4 linked regions of the Homo sapiens genome follow. The protein of the gene in region 3 purifies or fractionates together with the protein of the main gene of each other region. This does not show direct contact. Each region holds a gene or a part of one and is shown on either strand. Other genes may lie near its edges.

Region 1 (5,198 bases), about 190 Mb from region 3:
TGTTGTCGCTCTGAGACCCGTTATTTTAGTGGAAGGTGCTGTTGGCCTTTCTACGGGGGCATCCAGGAGCCCTTTTGCCACAGTGGCTTTTGCCAGGTTATCTGGTATTCAGTTAATCACTGCCTCTCAGATGCCACATGGTTCCTCTCTGTGGTCACAGGTCAAGGAACCTGTATGAAAGAATGAAAAACATCAAGATCAATGTGACGATATTAACAGCAAATTTGAAATCAAATCTTCTTGATTAATTATTCTAGTCATAAAAATGTTAAAAGTACATACAACTACATAAATGAGCTGATTCCTCTCTGCAAAGATGGTCACTAATGCTATTTTAGTACAATGTGATTCCCTATAATACATATCTTTATAAATGCATTTTTTTCTCCCTCACTTTTCCGGTTAATACATCTGGCAAACTCTTCTCTTCATCAACTGTTGTATAATTATAAAATTATATAATTATTTAAAAAATCATGTTTTTTTAACTGCTCTCCTGTTGATAGGCAATTAGCTATTTGTGGCTTCCTTTATTAATAAATAAGGGTCAGCACACTTTTTCCACAAAGGGCCGGATGATACATATTTTAGGCTTTGCTGGCTCTATGGTCTCTGTTGTAACTACTCAGCTCTGTGTTGCAGGAGGAAAGTGGCCGAAAATAATATGTAAATGAGTGTACGTGGCAGTGTTCCAATAAAACTTTATTTATAAAGCCTCTGTTAGAAATGGTTTTCAGAGAAAATCCCGGTCCTTGTCTCTTCCCAATACTGATAGTCCCCCTTTTCGATAAATGCTGAGAAGTGGGATTATCGGGTTAAAGTATATATACTCTTTGAATTATGCATAATACAGATGTCCACTCATTAGACCAGTGCTTAATATGGTCCTGGTAGCAAAAAGTTTTCATTTAAAGATTTATTTAAGGTTTTTGCTTAAAATGTAGGAGGAACCCTACCTGGGTCTCCAGAATCTTCAGACCCTTTCTTGGGATTAGGAAACTGGGCGTAGCCTGAGATTTCAGCGGGGACATCTCTGACTTCACTGTAATTGCTATTGGTGACAGTGTCCAGATCCGCCTTCACCTTTTCCCAGACGACTTGGTGCTCCTGCCGCCCTGGAGGCTGGGGGAGGCTGTGGGCCCTGGCAGGCCGGGTGTTGACCTGTGCTGGGTTGGTTATAACACAATGCCTGGGTTCTGTTTGTAGCTACCAGAGCTACCACATAGTTTGGGGTTGGTGTAGATCGTCTGCTTCTCTGTGATTCTCAAACCAGGTTCTGCCTCAGACACAGCCACAAAACAACCCTGTAAACTCCACCTTACGTGACGGTTTCACTGGAAGCAAAGGTTCTGATATTCTGGAAGTGGGCTTCAGTTACCCTGTAGTGCTCCTGGGTAGCCCCAAGTCCTCTGAACCCTCAGAGTTGACACCTGAGGACCATCCCTAACGGTATAGGCCTCGCCACCTTCTCACGCCCTGTTTTTATAAGGCTGGGTGGTTCCTAAAATATTAATATTTCAGCCAATCTGGTATCCTGAATGCTTGAATTTCATTACTGAGAACCCACCGATGCCATGCTCTGGGATTATTCGTGGGGCCTGCTATAGAGCAGGCTCTGGAGAGCTGAAGCAGGCCTGACCAGGAGTGTGGCCGCCCGACCACCTCTGCCCACCAGGTATGAGCTCCTGGTCAGGACAAGCAGCTGCCTCTGTGCGTTAGCTTGGGCTTAAACTGGCTCCTCCCCGCCTTAAATACTCCAGCATATTCTTTAAAGATCACAGGAAGTTGCCCAGGGGCCACTTGCCTATTTCTCTGTTCTCGCTGATGACCTCAGGACAATTTTGTTCTGTTTCAATTTGGCTTTTTGTTTGCCCCAGTCCCTGTCATCCCTGGGCCACTGTTAGGAGGTGTGAGCTTATCTGCTCGTGCCTGGGCCCCTGACTTTCCCTGCTCCTTCCAAGTGGCTTTTTAAGTAGCAGCCCCCGCTGCAACCCAGGGGAGCCTCAGCTCCTTCCTACGCTCTTGAGGCCTCTTATAAAGTGGACATGCAGGGAGAAGAGAAGCCTTGTGGCAGGCTCTTGCTGTCTCCTGTGTTAACAGAAGGATTGCAGTTTTATTATTTTGCGGTGACTTTGAAATGTGCTGTCACTCAAACAACCATGTTTTTATTGGCTTCTGCACTTGGAGGACTCCTCCATGAAGCCCGCGGACAGGACAGATGGCTCCGTGCAAGCTGCAGCCTGGGGTCCTGAGCTTCCCTCGCACCGCACAGTCCTGGGAGCCGGTGAGTGTTGCCTTCGTCAGAGAACTGAAGTCAGGAGGGACCAGGTCTGACGCACCTGTTACAACAGCTTAAAGCCTAGATTCCTCAGTAGTGAAGTTTTTATTTTTTCTAAGGTATATCTTAAAAACTAAAATCATGTTAAAGTACCCTGTTGATTCCTTCTGAGCTCTGCCTTGCCCACAGTTACATCCGGTGCCTGACATATGAATGGTACTCAGGTGTTTTTTGAGTAAATAAACATGCCCCTCCATGTGAAAAGTTAATATCCAGATTTAGTAAGACTTAAGATTTGCCCCTACAGGGTGGTGTTGTGAACCCTCACTTCTATAGGGCAGCTTCCCACTTCGTCCTCCTAGGAGGCTCCTTCCTTTTCCCCAGGCCAGTCTCACTGCCCACCCCCATCCTGTCCTCTTTTCTAGGGAATCTGTCCCTCACCCCTTCCTTCTGTCTTCAGTCTCTGTCCCCTGGATCCATCCGTCGGTATTTAGATGCGCTCAGACTCACGTTAGATACATCAGACCCTTCGTGGCTCTCCCCTGTCCTGGGCCCCTTCCTTGCCACATCCCTTTGCCCAGTTCCCTTTACCACCAGAGTGAAATAACCTGCTCCGTTTGGTGCCATGGATTCCCTACCCCACCAACCCCGTGTGTTCCTCCTCTCCCGACTCCTTTCGGCTCCATCTCTAAAGCCCAACTCTGGGTGAGGTTTCTCACAACCCCATTGCTAAATCCTGTTAGCATTCTTTGGGTTTTATTCTTTGGGTTTTGCGCTCTCCATTGCATTTAAACCTTCCAGAAGTTCTGGCCTGGGCCTCTGTGGCCCCCTGCTCCTCGGCCCCATGCTCCTCCAGTTTTCCTCCTTCTGTCTTCGTCCTTCCAAGCCTGCAGTCTGCTCGCCTCCCGTCCCTGCTGGATGCCCTTTCTAGAGGGTTTGTTTGAGCTGCCTTTGCCCTTCCCCCAGGTGGAGCCATGGCTTCTCTGTGTGCTGACTGTAACCTCCAGCCAGAACTCAACTGGGGGCGTTTTACTGCCCAGCAGCCCCTCTGCTTCAATACTTCATGTCCAGACTTGGCACAGCTAAGACTCAGCCCGACAGACAGGCTCCCCATCTTCTGCTCTGCGCCTCAGTACAGGCCCCTGCCGTCTTCCCTCTAGCGTTAGCCAGAAACCCAGGATCTTCATCTCAGCCTCTGCCTCATTCCTCATGGCCAAGGCATCCCTGTCCTGTGCCTTGTGCTTCGTTAGCTCTCATGTCCCCGCTGAGCACCAGCCTCCAACCCCACCCGGGCTCCCTCCGCCCCACTGACGCCCCTGTGAATGTGGTCAAGCCGCTTCTCTGATGCAACACGTGGCTTCCCATTGCTTTTGGGGTAAAAGGCCAGAACCCAGAATGGGGCCTGAAGTCCTGCCTGACCGCATGGCCTCCTTGCTGCCCCCGGGAAGCCCCTGTGATCCCCAGGCTGGAACAGACCCCCACTCTTATCTGAGCTCTTTAGACCTGGGTTCCTCTGCTTGCGAAACAGTTTTGTCACTAGCCTTTAAACACCTGTCTCTCCTGGACACTGGCCTTCCGCAGCCTCTGTCCCCCTCTGCCCAGTCCCTTTCCTGGCACCTTGCCTACACCAATAGTTAGTGATGGGTGTTGAGTCGCTAAAGGGAAGCTGGTGGTCTTTCAGAGTAGAATTGGAAAGCTCTTCATGAGGATATTTACCTGTGGTGCTATGTGTTTACTGCTATTAATCCAGATTTTAACTATAAATCCTTAGGTCCATGAATTTCCCCAACCGCTTGAAATCACAGGAAATAGTTATTTGATAGATGTACTGCCCAGTATGGCACCCACCAGCCCTCTCTGGATGATATTTAAATTAGTTGAAAGTGAAATAAAATTTAAAATCCATTTCCTCAGCCTTACTGGCCACATCCCAGCTGTTCAGTAGCCCGGTGTGGCTAGTGGCTGGCCTAGGACAGCAGGCAGAGAACTTTCCATGGTCACCGGAAGTTCTGTCGAGCAGTGCTGGGCTTGAGCGTCTCAACTTCCAGGCTCAGAGGCCATGGAAAGCTGGAGGTGGTGCAGAATCTGCCTTTCCTCACTCCATGGCCCCAGGCAGTTTCCCATTCTAGGGGTTCTCTGGGTTACTAAGAACCACGGGCAGCCGTAGATGGCTCCAGTGGGTGCACCCTTGAAGCAATGGGGATTTTTACTGTACAACTTACTCGAAGTGATGCCAAAACCATCCTTGAGAGGAAAATGCACTCCTTCCTGAAAATCCTGATTGAGATTTACTTGTTTGACTTTTAGATTCAAAAAGCGGTGAGGTCGATGCCACGTCAGACCAGGAAGAGTCAGTTGCTTGGGCCTTAGCAGTAAGTGCTGCCTTTAGTAATGAATGGACAGAGGGGGCGCTTGGGGGCTCAGGGGTCCATCAAAGCCCATGTGGCCTGAGGCGGGCAGCGCTGCCTGCACTTTTCTGGAAGTCCTCTCCTGAGGCTGGCTTTTGCTACTTCCAAGTCTCGGATTTCCTCGTGTCGATTCCCTTCAGCGGTAAGGCCCTCCTCTCAGTCTAGCACCTGGCAGCCAGTTCTACCCCCAGTGCAAGCCTGATTCACGATGATTTTCACTCTGCAGATAAAGCTGTCAGTGTGGTTGGCAGGGCGCCATCTGCCTGGATGAGCACACGACAGGAAAGCTGGGCTCTCGGTCAGTCTCCCCTACAGGGGCAGGGTAAAAAGAGAGGTGTTCTAGGGAGTATTTCCAGGTCTGTCCTCAAATGCCCCAAGTCACAAGGTCGCCTCATTGGGCAGCCGTCACTAACCCAAACAGTAAGTGTCATCTATATGTCTGTTTCCCAGAGTGCCCCCTGGGTCACAGAAACCACCCGTTTTCTTATGGGATGTGCTTCTTATCCTCCTTG
Region 2 (5,198 bases), on a different chromosome or scaffold from region 3:
CCTACTTCCACTCTTGTGTTCCCATGATCTGTTCGAACCCATGATGTGTTCACTACCCAGCAGTCAAACATTTTTGAAAATGTTTATCACATCACTTCACTCAACACCCTTCAAAGGGTTCCTAACACATTCAGATTTTACTCAAGTCCTTACCATGTCCTATAAGGCCCTACAATTGTACTGGCCCTTTGTGACCCTCTCTGACCTCCTCTCCTACCACTCCAGCCCTGATGGCCTTAATGTTCCTTAAATGTATCACACTCAAACATGCCAAGCACACTCCATCTCAGGGTATTTGCACTTGTTTTCTGCAGGGAATGCTCCTCCCCCAGAAACCTGAATGGCTCACTCTATCACTTGTTTCACAGCACACTTAAATGTCATCTCGAAAAGGCCCTCCATTATCACCTAATCTAAAGTAACCCACCCTCTGTCACTCTAACCTCTTATTCTGATTCCGTATCATTTCTCTTCAAAGCACTTAGCATTATTTTTTTTCTTAACGTGTGTCCACCATAGTAGAAAGTAAACTCCACGAGGGTAAGAACTCTTGTTCTATTCACTGCTGCATCCTCAAAACCCAGAACAATGTCCGGTACAAGGAAAGTACACAATGTGTTCAATGACTGAATTCACTGGCTGACTTGGCAAAAACATTCTTCAGTGACATAGGTACTCACCTAGTATTTTTTTTAATTACAATAAACAAAGATTTAGCAATTTGGACAGAAAACATGTTAGTATTTTACAAGATTACCTATTCATCTAAAGGACCACAAATTTATAGCACAAAATTTGCCATGTTATGGATCTTAAATCCCTTCAAATATCATAGATATGAGGTTAACATTCACACCAGATTAACCAAGCCTCTGACTTCATCCTACCTACTTACTCTTACATCTTAACTAGCAGGTCCAATGACAGCATGCTTCAAATGACAGTAACATCTATCTAATTTCCTAAGAAAAAAACCTCCATCTTCTTCCTACCCCAGGATGAGTTACTAGGTCCTGAATTCTACTTCTTTTAAGACAGACTCTTGCTCTGTCGCCCAGGCTGGAGTGCAGTGGCGTGATCTCGGCTCACTGCAAGCTCCGCCTCCCAGGTTCGCACCATTCTCCTGCCTCAGCGTCCTACAGGCGCCCGCTACCAAGCCTGGCTAATTTCTATTTTTTGTATTTTTTTAGTAGAGACGGGGTTTCACTGTGTTAGCCAGGATGGTCTCAATCTCCTGACCTCATGATCCACCCACCTCAGCCTCCCAAAGTGCTGGGATTACAGGTGTGAGCCACTGTGCCCGGCCCTGAATTCTACTTCAAAAAGGCTCAGATCTATCCTCTCTGCTCCACTTCCAATGCATTAGTTCAGGCCCTTATTCATTTTCCACTTGGACTTCTTACCTGGAATTTCCATCCTTACATTCAGCTCTCCCCTTGTTTTTGCAGTGGCCTGATCTCAGCTCACCGCAACCTCCAGCTCCTGGGTTCAAGCAATTCTCAACAACTTTCAATGGTTCCATGTAGTTTTCAAGAAAAAATTTTTTTTTTTTTGAGACAGAGTATTGCTCTTGTCACCCAGGCTGGAGTGCAATGGCATGATCTCGGCTCACTGTAACCTCCACCTCCCGTGTTCAAGCTATTCTTCTGCCTCAGCCTCCCTAATAGCTGGCATTACAGGCTCACACCACCATGCCCTGCTAATTTTGTATTTTTAGTAGAAACAGGGTTTCACCATGTTGGCCAGGCTGGTATAGAACTCAGGTGATCCACCTGCCTCAACCTCCCAAAGTGCTGGGATTACAGGTGTGAGACACCATGCCTGGCCAAGAAAATTTTCGACTCCCTCACTCAGCTTCATCTCCCACCACTGCCCTTTTATTCCTACCCAAACATATCATGCTTTAAGTTAATTCAGTCACACCAAATTACTTACAGTTTCCAGATACTTCACCTTGTTTCGTTCATTTTCCAGTACGTTATCCTCTATCTGAAAAACTTTTCTTCCCTTCTTTGCCTAGCAAAAGCCTTCGCACTCAGCTTAGATGTCAACTCCACCAGAAAACTTTCCATAGCTCTCTGATTTAGCTGTCCTCTTCTGTCCTCTCATAGCATTTCCTACAATTATTTTATGTTGGAATACTCATAAATAGATATGCTAGGAGTTTTGCTTTATTTATCTGCATCTTCTGCTACACTGTGGGCTCCCTGAAAGCAGGTCAGATGCCTCACCCACCTTCATTCTATATTACCTGATATATGAAACGGGTTGTTGTTAAATGAATGACTTATGAAAGGGGTGAGACAGAAGGAAGAGGGGGAAGGAAAAGAACAGAGAGGGGGGAACGAACTGACAGAGTGGATAGGGAGACAAACAAAGGTAGAGGTAGGGGGAGAGAGAGAGAGAACATGTACACACACACAGGGCATTAAAAAAGGGAATTTGTAATCAATCCATTATTTTTTCATGTGGCCTAAGCCAATCATTGTTGAAGAAAGAAAAGTACATCTGGAAAATTCAATCTACGTGGATTCTAAATATAACCACCTTTTTTTTTTTTTTTTTCCTGAAATGGGGTCTCCCTGTCACCCAAGCTGGAGTGCAGTGGTGCCATCTCGACTCACTGCAACCTCCACCTCCTAGGTTCAAGCGATCCTACCTCAGTCTCCTGAGTAGCTGGGAATACAGGCATGCGCCACCATGCCCAGCTAATTTTTTTATACTTTTAGTAGAGACGGGGTTTTCATCACTTTGGCCAGGCTGGTCTTGAACTCCCAACCTCAAGTAATCCACCCACCTCAGCCTCCCAAAGTACTGGGATTACAAGCATGAGCCACCATGCCCGCCAAAGTATAATCATCTAAATCATTCCTCCTCTAAAGATTCTGGTATATCCAGCCCAACCAGCCCATTTTAATTGAAAATTTACTGCTACGTAATAAAAGACGTTAATAACATGTACAATATAGATACAGGAAAAAAAAGTTTGAGTTTAAAAAAAGTAAAAATCGGCCGGGCGCAGTGGCTCACGCCTGTAATCCCAGCACTTTGGGAGGCCGAGGCGGGCAGATCACCTGAGGTCAGGAGTTCGAGACCAGCCTGACCAATATGGAGAAACCTTGTCTCTACTAAAAGCACAAAATTAGCCCGGCATGATGGTGCATGCCTATAATTCCAGTTACTCAGGAGGCTGAGGCAGGAGAACTGCTTGAACCTGGGAGGCAGAGGTTGCAGTGAGCCGAGATCGCACCACTGCACTCCGGCCTGGGCAACAAGAGCAAAAGTCCGTCTTAAAAAAAAAAAGTAAAAATCAACCTGACATAATAAAAATAAGTCTTGGAATTATTTACAAACTTTAATAATCTACCACCTCCTTATAATGTGGTACTGCTGATTTTTATTTTATTTTATTTAGTTTTTTTTTTTTTGAGAGAGAGAGTTTCACTTTTTTCGCCGAGGCTGGAGTTCAGTGGCGCAACCTCAGCTCACTGCAACCTCCGCCTCCTGGGTTCAAGCAGTTCTCCTGCCTCAGCCTTCCGAATAGCTGGGATTACAGGTGTGTGCCACCATGCCCAGCTAATTTTGTATTTTTAGAAGAGACAGGGTTTTACTACGCTGGCCAGGCTGGTCTCAAACTCCCTTGACCTCAGGTGATCCTCCTACCTCGGCCTCCCAAAGTGCTGTGATTACAGGCGTGAGCCACCATGCCCAGCCGGCACCACTGATTTTTAAAAGTCTATCAAGAGCATGAAAAATAAATTCAACATAACACCAACATCACGATCTATGTTACAGCACAAATTCCTTATGTATTACGAATCATATTCCTCAAAAACATACTGTGAAAAAAGTAACATAGCATATATTAGACAGTAATGGGAATGTATTTGTTTACATAAATTCTTAAAGGTAGTACATGGGAAAACTGCTAAAACATACAACACTTCAACTTTAAAACAACACCTAAAAAGTATTACTACATAATCTAACTTTCAATCACCTCAATAAACTGTCACTTAATAAAATTTAAAGATTTGTTGTCGTTAATACAACAGACAATTCAAACTTAAAAGCTTGCTCCCAAGTACAAATATGTTTGGTAAGATCCAATAAATGGCATAAAACCTTCTGTAGCTCAATGATCATCGTAATACAGAAATTACACCAGGCACGGTGACTCTCGCCTGTAATCCCAGCACTTTGGGAGGCTAAGGCGGGAGAGTCACCTGAGCCCAGAAGTTCGACACCAGCCTGGGCAACACGGCAAAACCTCATCTCTACAAAAACTACAAAAATTAGCCAGGTGTGCCTGTAGTCCCAGCTACTCAGGAGGCTGAGGTGGGAGGATTATTTGAGCCCAGGAGGCAGCAGTTACAGATCGTGCCAGCCAGGGTGAAATAGTGAGACTCTATATCAAAAAGAAAAATAAAAAAGAACGAAAGAAATTGGGAACACACAGAAAAAGAAACAAAATTTAGGCCTAATACACTCAACATTAAATAGATTCTGAATTGCAATTTTTGCTAAAGCAAAATACAAATTACAAGAAGCTTCTCATCTTTTATCACATAAGAAATAAAGTTGTAAGAAATAAGCTAAGTTTTTAGTACTAATAATTACTAGCAAATTCTCTGAGATTTGCTATACTTATAATAACAGGAAGTACTTGTATGAAGTTAGAAATTTATTTTAGTAACTTTTTCCTTTTAACGTTAAAAGCACCTTTTTAAAAAATGCAGTAGAATGTAATGCTGAGCACTTAAAATTAGTATTTCTAAAAAGATACCAAAAAATTTGCATTTGGCTAGTATTACCAAGAAACTTTTAAGGCTAAAGTTTCCAACATACTTTCATTTTTTTAAACAGACTACTTAAAAAAAAAAAGGAAACGAAAGGAAGAAAAAAAACATTTTAATCTCAGACTTTCAACTTAACTACATTTCTTTTAACCAAACATTTATAGAGCACCTAAGAAGTGACAAGCACTACAACACTGGGAAATGTGACACATTACATTTACTCCAAACTAAACCTTTTATTTATTCGGCTTCTGAACTTATTATTTCTTACTCAAACCAAAACTTTTCTTAAGAAATTCTCACCCAACATCAAGGTACATATACGAGTTACCTAATAAATGCACTTTCACCACTGTTTTACACAGGTGATGAGAGTTATAGCTAGGATTTGTGACTAAC
Region 3 (5,198 bases):
GTACACAAGAACTTATGTTTATTGCAAACAAACAAACAAAAAAAAAAGGAAAGAGAGGAAAAGAGAAAATGGTCAGAAGCACAACATATAAGGTTAAGAATTTAAAAGCATCTTACATTCTGCCCTAATGGCAGCATAATTAATAGCAACAAACGGCCGTCTTGCTGCCTGCCGCAGCCGGAGGGTATTTTTGCAGACCTGACGAGCAAATTTTGTGAAATATGTAGTATGAAGGAAGAAAGCTTGGCGGGTCTTCACTGCAGACTTTGGACTCCCAGTGTTTCGGACTGGCATTCCCTGCATGGCCTGGCGGGACACGTGACTTCTAACACGAGGGTCCTGCAAAATCAGAAAACAACAAACACTCAAGGAAGTGAACTTGCCCAAACACGTTACTGTTTGCATCATGCTCAAAAGAAAAGTGCAACTTTTAAATCTTTCATGAAGCATCTATAACGTCACTTGGTGCACTACCTCTAAAAGAGAGAATTAAAGTGTGCACTTTTGGGAAAGAGGTGGGGAGTAGAGAAGGGAACTGTGGAGAATACTGTACTGCTATACAGGAATCCAAAATCACATTCACAGTAAGTGGTATGAAACTGCCAAGGGGGTTAACTACACTTTTTTTTAAATTAAGGAGTCCTGAAAGCCCGTCAGCACTGAAAAAGGGTAGTCGCCCACTGGTAAACACAGGCGTTTGGCATCTTCAGCCTATGAGGATTTTACCAAAATCACATTTAAACTGTTGTTCACCTCAAGATTAAGTCCATACTTCTTGTCCCTCCAAAACAGCCACGGGGAGAAAAAATGCTTAATTTGCATTTATGACTTTATGTAGTAAGACACGCCTTCAACAGAATGTAAAGGTTACGAACTGTTTTCAAAAGCAATTAAACATTTAATTTGTAAGCTCTCTACTTATGCTAACATCTCCCACACTCATTGTTTTTTTGTCTGAGACCATTATTCTGAATACCTGATAAAATTTAATTTCTCTCTGCTTCTCTCCACACCTACCCTGAATATTGTAGTGCTACGTTTAGCTATAAAGGTAGCTTTCTTCATTTTTTAATTATCCTATACTGTACTTCTGTTTCCAAGGAATAATCAACCCATTTAAAAACATGCCATTTTTCAACACTAAAAAGACTACTGTACCTCTGTAGTTGGGCTAGGAGATAACTTCTCTTCTTCTGACTGGGTGGGCATTTTCAAGCCTCCATATTTTTTCCAATAAAGCCAACAAATTGCACATAATCTACACTGCATATTAGGTGGGCCCCAAGAATACCACTGGTGAGACTGTGTAGCTAAAGCAGAAGAAAAATAAGAAAAAACGAAAAATGCTATTTAATTTGTAACATCAACACAAAATAATCAAACATTTTAAAAATACTTGTCATGCTTAGTTTACAATGTTATTGTTCCCAGCTTACAAGCCAAACATAATAGTATATTTGTTTTTTTAATACTCAGAATTCATTAAACCAACTTATTTCCATTATTATATAAAGTGCTTGTGGCCCTGTTAAAGCTATTCAGTGAAGCATCCTGTATTATGCATTGTGCTGCTGAGGGAGTTTTTGTTTTGTTGATTAAAAATACTCTATTGTGTATGTTTCTGGAAATAGGTTCTCAAAAAGATGGTAGTATTTAAAAAATCTGGGGCCGGACATGGTGGCTCACGCCTGTAATCCCAGCACTTTGGGAGGTTGAGGCAGGCGGACCATGAGGTCAGGAGATCAAGACCATCCTGGCTAACACGGTGAAACCCCGTCTCTACTGAAAACACACAAAAAAAATTAGCCAGGCATGGTGGCACGCACCTGTAGTCCTAGCTACTCGGTAGGCTGAGGCAGTAGAATTGCTTGAATGTGGGAGGCAGAGGTTACAGTGAGCTGAGATCACGCCACTGCACTCCAGCCTGGGCGACAGAGTGAGGCTCCATCTCAAAAGAAAAAAAAAAAAAATCTAAATCCACGTTTCCAAACCCAGGGTTCAGACACCACTCCAAGGATTATTTAAGGTACTCAGGGAGGTCTCATTGATAAAGTCAGGAATCTAATAAAAACAGGTATCTGTCAGCCAGGTGTGGTGGTGAACCCCTGTAGTCCCAGCGACTACAGAGACTGAGGCAGCAGGACTGCTTGAGCCTGGGAGGTTGAGGCCACTGTGATTGCACCACTGCATTCCAGCCTGGGTTACAGAGGGAAGCGGGGAGGAGGAGGGGGCTGGGGAGGGGAAGAGGGAGGGAGTAGGGGAGGAGAGAAGAAACAAACAGGTATCTGTTTTGCACTCCTTTATTTTAATCAATAAGTAAAATCCTTATTTTAAAATCTCCATTTACAGACAGAATCCCTTTCAAGACTCTAAATCCATATGAAGTGAGCATGGGCAGCTGACATCACAGCATGCTTGAGGCCTAAAACTCAGATGATTTAACAGCTAGCTGAACACTGTAAGCTTGTGTTAGTTTTTGTTTTGTAGTTTAAATTACTGACATGTGACATTTAAAATACATGTGTGATAGATCTGAAGTTTAAGAGAAAACATTGAGGTTGAGACATAAGTTAATTGGGTGCATAAAAAATTGTAATTCTGTAAGTTTGCCTTAAAATATTATTTCTCTGACCTGTAAGTTACCTTCAAATGTTCAAACAGCACATGAAGATATCAACTAACACTTCACAAACCAATGTGAAAAAGAGAAAATACAGAGACCATTATATTCATGTTTATCGGGAATAACACTGTACACCCATCATGTATTATTTTTGGAGGATTATTATTTTAGGCTTTTATTTGTGTAAATATTTTAGGCCTATTTTAGGCTTTCATTTATACAAATAACTATTTTATACAAATGAAAGCCTAAAAGCCTTTCCTCCTATAATTTAGAACTAATAAGTCATTTTTTAAATTTTTTATTTTATTATTATTATACCTTAAGTTTTAGGGTACATGTGCACAATGTGCAGGTTAGTTACATATGTATACATGTGCCATGCTGGGGTGCTGCACCCATTAACTCGTCATTTAGCATTAGGTATATCTCCTAAAGCTATCCCTCCCTGCTCCCCCCACCCCACAGCAGTCCCCAGATGTGATGTTCCCCTTCAAAATCTTAAACATTAAGCTATGAATCTATTTTGAATTCTAAATATAAAATTTCACTTAAAACATACATTTTACGTAAACTAATCATGCAAATCATTTTAATAATTGTCAATAAATGCCTTTCTCCTTAAATAACTCAAATTCAATTGGAAAGTAGGTATCATTTAATAAATAGAAAACATCAAGTTCTATCTCTCTGTAAGGATAAATCTTATATTAAGATAACATTTTATCATGGAGATTAGTAATACATGAGTCTAAAGTAAATATTATAAAATAAAAATAGCTTATTCATCATGCACACATAAAAATAACAGAATAATCATTTAAGGGGATATACGTGAGTGTGAAAGGGGTTTGCAAGTTAATTTTTTTTTTGGGGGCGGGGGGGAGACGATGTTTCACTCTGTCACCCAGGTTGGAGTGCAATGGTGCAATCTCAGCTCACTGCAACCTCTGCCTCCTGGGTTCAAGCTATTCTCCTGCCTCAGCCTCCTGAGTAGCTGGGATTACAGGTGCATGCCACCATGCCTGGCTAATTTTTGGTATTTTTAGTAGAGACGGGGTTTCACCATGTTGGCCAGGCTGGTCTCGAACTCCTGACCTCAGGTGATTCACCCGCCTCAGCCTCCCAAAGTGCTGGGATTACAGGCATGAGCCACAGCACCCTGCCTGCAAGTTAAAATCAAGACAGGTTAAGCCACTACCACTTGTCTGCAGGATTCTTTTCATTTTCATTTGAATATACATGAACTACAAAATCCAAGAATTCCCAATTCAAGGTATTTATGATGCTATCCATGTAAAAGCCTGACCTAAAAAATCTTAATTTTCCACAAATTGTTTCCCTTTGTGCTCCCATGCTGCAAAAAAATGGTTAAACACATCCCCATGTACCATTTCTACAAATTCAGCAACTTGGCTCACACCTTCCTTGGGATCAATCGACGTAATCGTACTCACAGCCGTCCCTCATTCCTATATCCTTCCTGAAGGCAGTAGGCTACATGTACTCTCAAAGAGCTACTAAGAACCCAAAATGGGGCACCAAGTAGGTTTTCAATAAACATTCGTTTCCTTCCCTCTCCCATCCCAGGCTACCTTAACTGGAAGGAAACATAGATGATAATATCACCAATGCCCCATTAAGATATTGTATCCTTGCTTGAGATTTAAAATAAACACACAAAGTCTATCAACTACCTAACGGTTCACTTCACCGACCCCATTTAACACCCTGGGCAAATAAAATACTGCCACCATAGATAAATACAGTGGGATCCTGAGGCCAAAAGCAAGTATCATAGAAGAGCATTTCCCAAACTGGTGCACTGAGGGAACATGGTCTGAGGATTATATACAGCAGCTTATCCACACAGAGGCCTTTCCTACAGAATTACTTGGAGCTTTAATTTGTCAAAGTATACTGAGAAACTCCAAAGGGGAATTTGGTATGCATCATGGGAACACAGTTTCTGCAAAGCTAATATGACTCTAAACACAACTCAGCAAACACTGCTATGAAATAATCAACAAACCACAAGAGTACATCAAGGGAAATCCAATGCCTAACTTGAGTGTGTGGTACGTAATAAGGATTCAATAAACAGTCCCTCTGTTCCAGGCAGAAGGTAAGGAGGGGCATCTACTCATTTAGAGGAGACATGCTTGTGCCTTCCAAGGTGCACCGTACTGACCTCAGGCACTTCCCAGACGCTCACACCCCATGAGCCAGAACAGTTCCCGATGCTTAACTGACCTGCTAGAGAAAACTTACCATAGCAGCTCTCACAGGCTCTCCCTAAGAGAGGATTCTGAGGCTGGAACGTGGTCCCCACAGCTCCATTCACAGCACCAGGCTTCCCATTACTAGTGGATATTTGGTTGGGATTTGGTTTGCTGCTTTCAATGAAATTAAAATAAGGTGATAAAATGATTTGTACAATAAGGCAAAAAGCTCTATATCATTACTGATTTACCGTCACTATTTAATAAACATAAACAAACATTTTAAAATGTGTGAAGAAGAAATAAACTGGTAAAACCAAGGTGTTAAATGAACTCACACTACTCATCTTTAT
Region 4 (5,198 bases), on a different chromosome or scaffold from region 3:
AAACAGAAGGGAGAGGGGAGTCTAAGAGGGGCCAGGAGCCCCAGACAGGTGGCAGATAGCCGAGAATGCTGCTCAGTCATGGTCCAGACTTGGGACTTTCCAGAAAACAAGGCAGTCCGTGGCCACACTTCAGGAACAGTGAGAGGGGGCACGGAGCAAGGTGGGAACCCAGGAAGATCCCATCCTGCCCAGCTCTCCCTGGAGAGCCTGTGTGAGAAGGATGGTGGCAGCACAATGAGGGAAAGGAGGGGCGAGAGGTGAGGCCAGCATCTTCCCAGGTCTCCCAAGAGTTCACCGAGGTGATGGACACGTGGAGGGAACCCTTCAGCAGAACAGAGAAAAACCCAGGATGGTCTGGTCCAGAAGCAGAACTATAAGATGCTTCTATCAGATGTAGACCCACCATGGGTGATTTCCACCTGCCCTAGAGCAGGGGGGCAGAAAAGGCACCTCACGCCCCAGAGCGCCAGGGCTGGTGGTATGGGGCTGGGCCAGGCTGGCTGTGGGCAAATGTCAGCTCTGAAGGAAGCTACCAGGTTCCACAAACACGAACCCTTGTGTGCTGGTATGTGACCTTAGTCACCTGGAGATACCACCATGGCTGACTCTCATGGCATAACCAGGGCACTCAGAGGATGAGAGAAACACCCCAGGTAGCCAGGGACCTGGGTGATGAGGCCAACTCCTAGAAACAGCAGCCTGGGGCCTCGCCGCCTCCACTTCCCGCAGCTGGCCAGCCACTCCATGGGGAGATAAAAAACTAGAACAAATGCAGACCATTCTTTTCTTCCTTCCTCAGGACCTAGAGATTAGGCAGGGATCCACAGTCTCTTCCCAAACCCTTGTTATCCCCCATCTGGGACACACAGAGATCCCCCTCTGTAAGGAAGAGTGAAGACAGATAAGCACAAGTCAAATGTACACATCTTACAGTTCAAACCACAATTCACAGAGGTGAATCTGAGCCACTCAAGCATCTCCATGGGACATGGAGTTTCTGAGGAACATGAGAAAATTCCAGAACCTCTCTAATTCGTGGCATCAACAAGGACTAAGAGCACACACATGGCCAAAGGCAGTGGTTCACGCCTGTAATCCTAACACTCTGGGATTAGTGTTAGGCTGACAGGAGAGGATCACTTGAGGCCAGGAGTTAAAGAACAGTCTGGGTAACACAGACTCCATCACTACTAAAAATAAAAAAATCAGCCAGCCATGGTGGTGCTTGTAGTCCCAACTACTCCAGAGGCTATGGTAGGAGGACCACTTGAGCCCAGAATTCAAGGCTGCAGTGAGCCATGATTGCACCACTGCACTCCAACCCGGGTGACTAAGAGAGACCTTGTCTCGGAAAAAAGAAAAAAAAGAGTGTATATACACACATTAGAAAACTCAGGGAGAGGCCGGGCCTTGTGGCTCACCCCTGTAATGCCAGCACTTTAGGAGGCTGAGGCGGAAGGATTGCTTGAGTCCCAGAGTTCAAGACTAGCCTGGGCAACACAGTGAGACCCTGTCTCTCAAAAAAACAAAAAAATTAGCCAAGCATGGTGGTGCACACCTGTGTTCTCAGCTAGTTAGAAGGCTGAGGTGGGAGGATCACTTGATCCTGGGAGGTAGAAGTTGCAGTGGGCCATGATCACACCACTGTATTCAACCTTGGGGACAGAGCAAGACTGTCTCAAAAAGAAAACTCAGGGAGGCAGGGAGGCTGACTTGAAAAGGGAATTCAAAAGATTGCTTGGAGATAAAAAATGCAGCTCTGTAAATCAGAGAATTCAGCAAGTTGGAAACCACAGACAACCAAACTGGTGAATCAGAAAACAATCCCATCATGTTCTCCGAAGATTAAGGAAATGGCTTAAGATGGTGAAGAGGCGTATGAAGACGAAAAAGACACAGAGACCAATCCAGCCTATATATGAAGGAATTCCTAAGGTAGGAGAAGGGGCAGACAGGGAAAGAAAAACTAAAGAAATAAACACTTCCTCAGCTCAAGGTTTGAATCTTTAGTCTGATATGAAAGCCGGGGGGGAAAAAAATAGAGAAATACCACACCACCATACAGCCTGTCAAATTTGAGGGATAACTAAAGAGACTCTCTACAAAGGAATAACAGCTGGATTACAGCTCACGCCTGTAATCCCAGCACTTTGGGAGGCCGAGGCAGGCCATTTGAGTCAGGAGTTCGAGACCAGCCTGGCCAATATGGCGAAACCCCATCTCTACAAAAAAATAGAAAAATTAGCAAAAAAATATAAAAATTAGAACTCATCACCAGCAAGCCCACACTACATGGTTAAAGGATGGCCTTCAGAAGGAACCAGATGGAAATATGGATCTAAAGAGGAATGAAGAGCACTGGAGATGCTTCTTCCTATGGAAAAAAGGAATTGGAAGGAGGCAGCAAATGAGGCCACATGGATAAGAAAGAAAGGGAGAGAGAGAAGTATCAATGCCTTTTGTAGTGACAGCATCTCTGTTTAAGGGCTTAGATGCGAAGTCCAAGATTCTGGTTTGAACGGACAATCATTTCTCACGAAACCTATCTAAGTTATGCTTTAGATCAACTCTTTAGAGACTGATTTCTTTTTTCTCTTTTTTTTTTAAAAAAAAAAAAAACTAGAAAGAGAGTCACGCTTTGTCACCTAGGCTGGAGTGCAGTAGCCAATCATAGCTCACTGCAGCTTCAAACTCCTGGGCTCAAGCAATCCTCCCACTTCAGCCTCCCGAGTAGCTGGGACTACAGGCACACACGGCCACGCCCAGCTAATTAAAAAAATTTTTTTTGGCTGGGAGCAGTGGCTCACACATATAATCCCAGCACTTTGGGAAGCCGAGGCGAGTGGATCACAAGGTCAGGAGTTTGAGACCAGCCTGACCAACACGGTGAAACCTCGTTTCTACTAAAAATACAAAAATTAGCTGGGTGTGGTGGCGCGTGCCTGTAATCCCAGCTACTCAGGAGGCTGAGGCAGGAGAACTGCTTGAACCCGGGAGGCGGAGGTTGCAGTGAGCCGAGATTGCACCACTGCACTCCAGCCTGGGTGATAAAGCAAGACTCCATCTCAAAAAAAAAAAAAACTTTTTTTTTTTTTGTGTACAGACAGGGTCTCCCTATATTGCCCAGACTGGTCTTAAACCCCTAGTCTCAAGTGATCCTCCCACCTTGGCCTCCCAAGCGCTGGGATTACAAGTGTGAGCCACTGAGCCGGACTTTGGAGACTGATTTCTGACTAAGGGATTCACAAATCTTTTCCCGAAATTATGTATCACTATCAGGGCTAAAATTCCTGAGCTGATTTCTGAATCACAAAATAGCGATTTCCTCCTCCAGCAAATGTATCAAGCAGAGGAATAGTTAAGCAACTCTCTCTACCTGGAATTTAGAATCATGATGACCCAAGGAAGTAAACTTATTGTAAAAGCACTTCCATTGTAAAAGCAGGCTGGCGAGCAACCTGTACAGGCTTCCAGACAGAAAATGTCATGCTCCGTAAGCTCAGAGGACAGGAATGCAGTCTCCACTCTTGATAGAGGGATGGGCACTTTCGCCCTGCACATAAGGCTGCTCAAACACAACGAATTTGCACCTGAAACCTTAGGAAGCGGAAGAGATTATGTTTTTCAGGCTAATTTGGACTCTCCATTCCTGAGACAGAAAATTATCAAATGAGGGCCAGGTGCAGTAGCTCACGCCTGTAATCCCAGCGTTTTGGGAGGCTGTGGCAGGAAGATCACTTTAAGGCCAGTTCAAGACCAGCCCAGATAAAGTAGCAAGACCTCACCTCTTAAAAAAATTTTAGCCGGGTGTGGTGGCTCACGCCTGTAATCCCAGCATTTTGGGAGGCTGAGGCAGGAGGATCACGAGGTCAGGAGATCGACACCATCCTGGCTAATACGGTGAAATCCTGTCTCTACTAAAAATACAAAAAATTAGCTGAGCGCGGTGGCGGATGCCTGTAGTCCTAGCTACTCGGGAGGCTGAGGCAGGAGAATGGCATGAACCTGGGAGGCGGAGCTTGCAGTGAGCCAAGATCGCGCCATTGCACTCCAGCCTGGGCAACAGAGCAAGACTCCATCTCAAAATAAATAAATAAATAAATAAATAAATAAATAAATAAATAAATATTTTTTTAATTAGCTGAGCATGGTGGCATGCACCTGGAGTCCCAGCTACTCAGGAGGCTGAGGCAGGAGGATCACAAAAAAGGAAACTATCAAATTAAAAAATACAAATGAGGAAAAGCAAAGGTGGAGCCCAAAACTATATCGATAAAAATGATAAATCGTGGTGGCCAGAAAGGAGAGGGCTTTCTTAAAACAGTCTTCAGTGTTATTCCAAGGGTGCCCCCTCCCCACTGTTCCACCAGTGGTCCCAAGGCCCATGGTCTGGTGTTGCTGAGGGAGAGGACGGCGAAGGTTGGGGGCACTGCAGCACTCACGCAGCATGTTTCTGGTGCAGGGGTGTCTTGTCCCGGTGCAGTGGTGTGGTGACCACCACCTTCTGGCTGCACACTGGGGTGGATGTCAGCGAGGGGCTCTCCAGCTCCAATGTGTCCTGTTTGTTCCAGAAGTTCAGAAACTGCCAAAGAAGAGAGAGGGAACAAGACAAAATGATGACCTGCATGAGTATCCCTGAGACCTCAGGGGATCATGGGGAGAGATCCTTGAGCCTCTCCCCCAAAACGTCTGCTCTGATACTGAGGTCCCCTCTTGACCCATCAGACACCCGAGAACAAGGACTGGGACAGATCGATGCCAGGAGCCCACCAAGCAGGTTCACACAGACCTCTGGGCTTCCGTCACCCTAATCCTAGCTTTTGCCATCTCTACTCGAGTGCTGACGACGCAGTTAAGGCACAGGAAGCCAACTGTGGGAGAGTGGCTCCTTCTCAGAAGAAATAAAACTAGCTCTGAACTGACCTGTGAAGGCAAAAGGCATGTGACAGTTGTAGTGTGCTGGTGGCGGTGGGGTTATCATTTAGAGGGCACCTTCTCTTGCCAGTGCTAAGCACTTCACACAAATAATTTCAATTAGTTACCACAAATCCTGAGACATAGGCACTATTACTATCCCCCTTTTACAGATAAGAAAACCAACGCTTAGAGAGGTTTTGAGTCTTGCACTGAGTGCTAGAAGTGAGAATGAAATCTAGATCTAAGCCAACATCCATCCTTTGAAGCACCCCGCTCTCTTC

What was found. Proteins that work in one complex are often made in the same cells at the same time.
Region 1: the proteins of MTA3 (region 3) and HJURP purify together in Homo sapiens (affinity purification with mass spectrometry, with the first as the bait; one large-scale study listed by BioGRID). This does not show direct contact.
Region 2: the proteins of MTA3 (region 3) and ARID4B purify together in Homo sapiens (affinity purification with mass spectrometry, with the first as the bait; one large-scale study listed by BioGRID). This does not show direct contact.
Region 4: the proteins of MTA3 (region 3) and MYBL2 purify together in Homo sapiens (affinity purification with mass spectrometry, with the first as the bait; one large-scale study listed by BioGRID). This does not show direct contact.

Annotation. Positions count from the first base shown.
Region 1 is NC_000002.12:233,846,849-233,852,046, reverse strand, and holds part of HJURP (Holliday junction recognition protein), read left to right. Parts: exon of another isoform or gene 1-2,187; coding exon 2,188-2,284; intron 2,285-4,585; coding exon 4,586-4,650; intron 4,651-5,198. UniProt on the Homo sapiens protein: Centromeric protein that plays a central role in the incorporation and maintenance of histone H3-like variant CENPA at centromeres.
Region 2 is NC_000001.11:235,320,493-235,325,690, forward strand, and holds part of ARID4B (AT-rich interactive domain-containing protein 4B), read right to left. Parts: intron 1-5,198. UniProt on the Homo sapiens protein: Acts as a transcriptional repressor. May function in the assembly and/or enzymatic activity of the Sin3A corepressor complex or in mediating interactions between the complex and other regulatory complexes.
Region 3 is NC_000002.12:42,704,015-42,709,212, reverse strand, and holds part of MTA3 (metastasis-associated protein MTA3), read right to left. Parts: intron 5,020-5,198; coding exon 4,895-5,019; intron 1,311-4,894; coding exon 1,159-1,310; intron 340-1,158; coding exon 117-339; coding exon of another isoform or gene 94-116; exon of another isoform or gene 1-93. UniProt on the Homo sapiens protein: Acts as a component of the histone deacetylase NuRD complex which participates in the remodeling of chromatin.
Region 4 is NC_000020.11:43,704,603-43,709,800, reverse strand, and holds part of MYBL2 (myb-related protein B), read right to left. Parts: intron 4,583-5,198; coding exon 4,443-4,582; intron 1-4,442. UniProt on the Homo sapiens protein: Transcription factor involved in the regulation of cell survival, proliferation, and differentiation. Transactivates the expression of the CLU gene.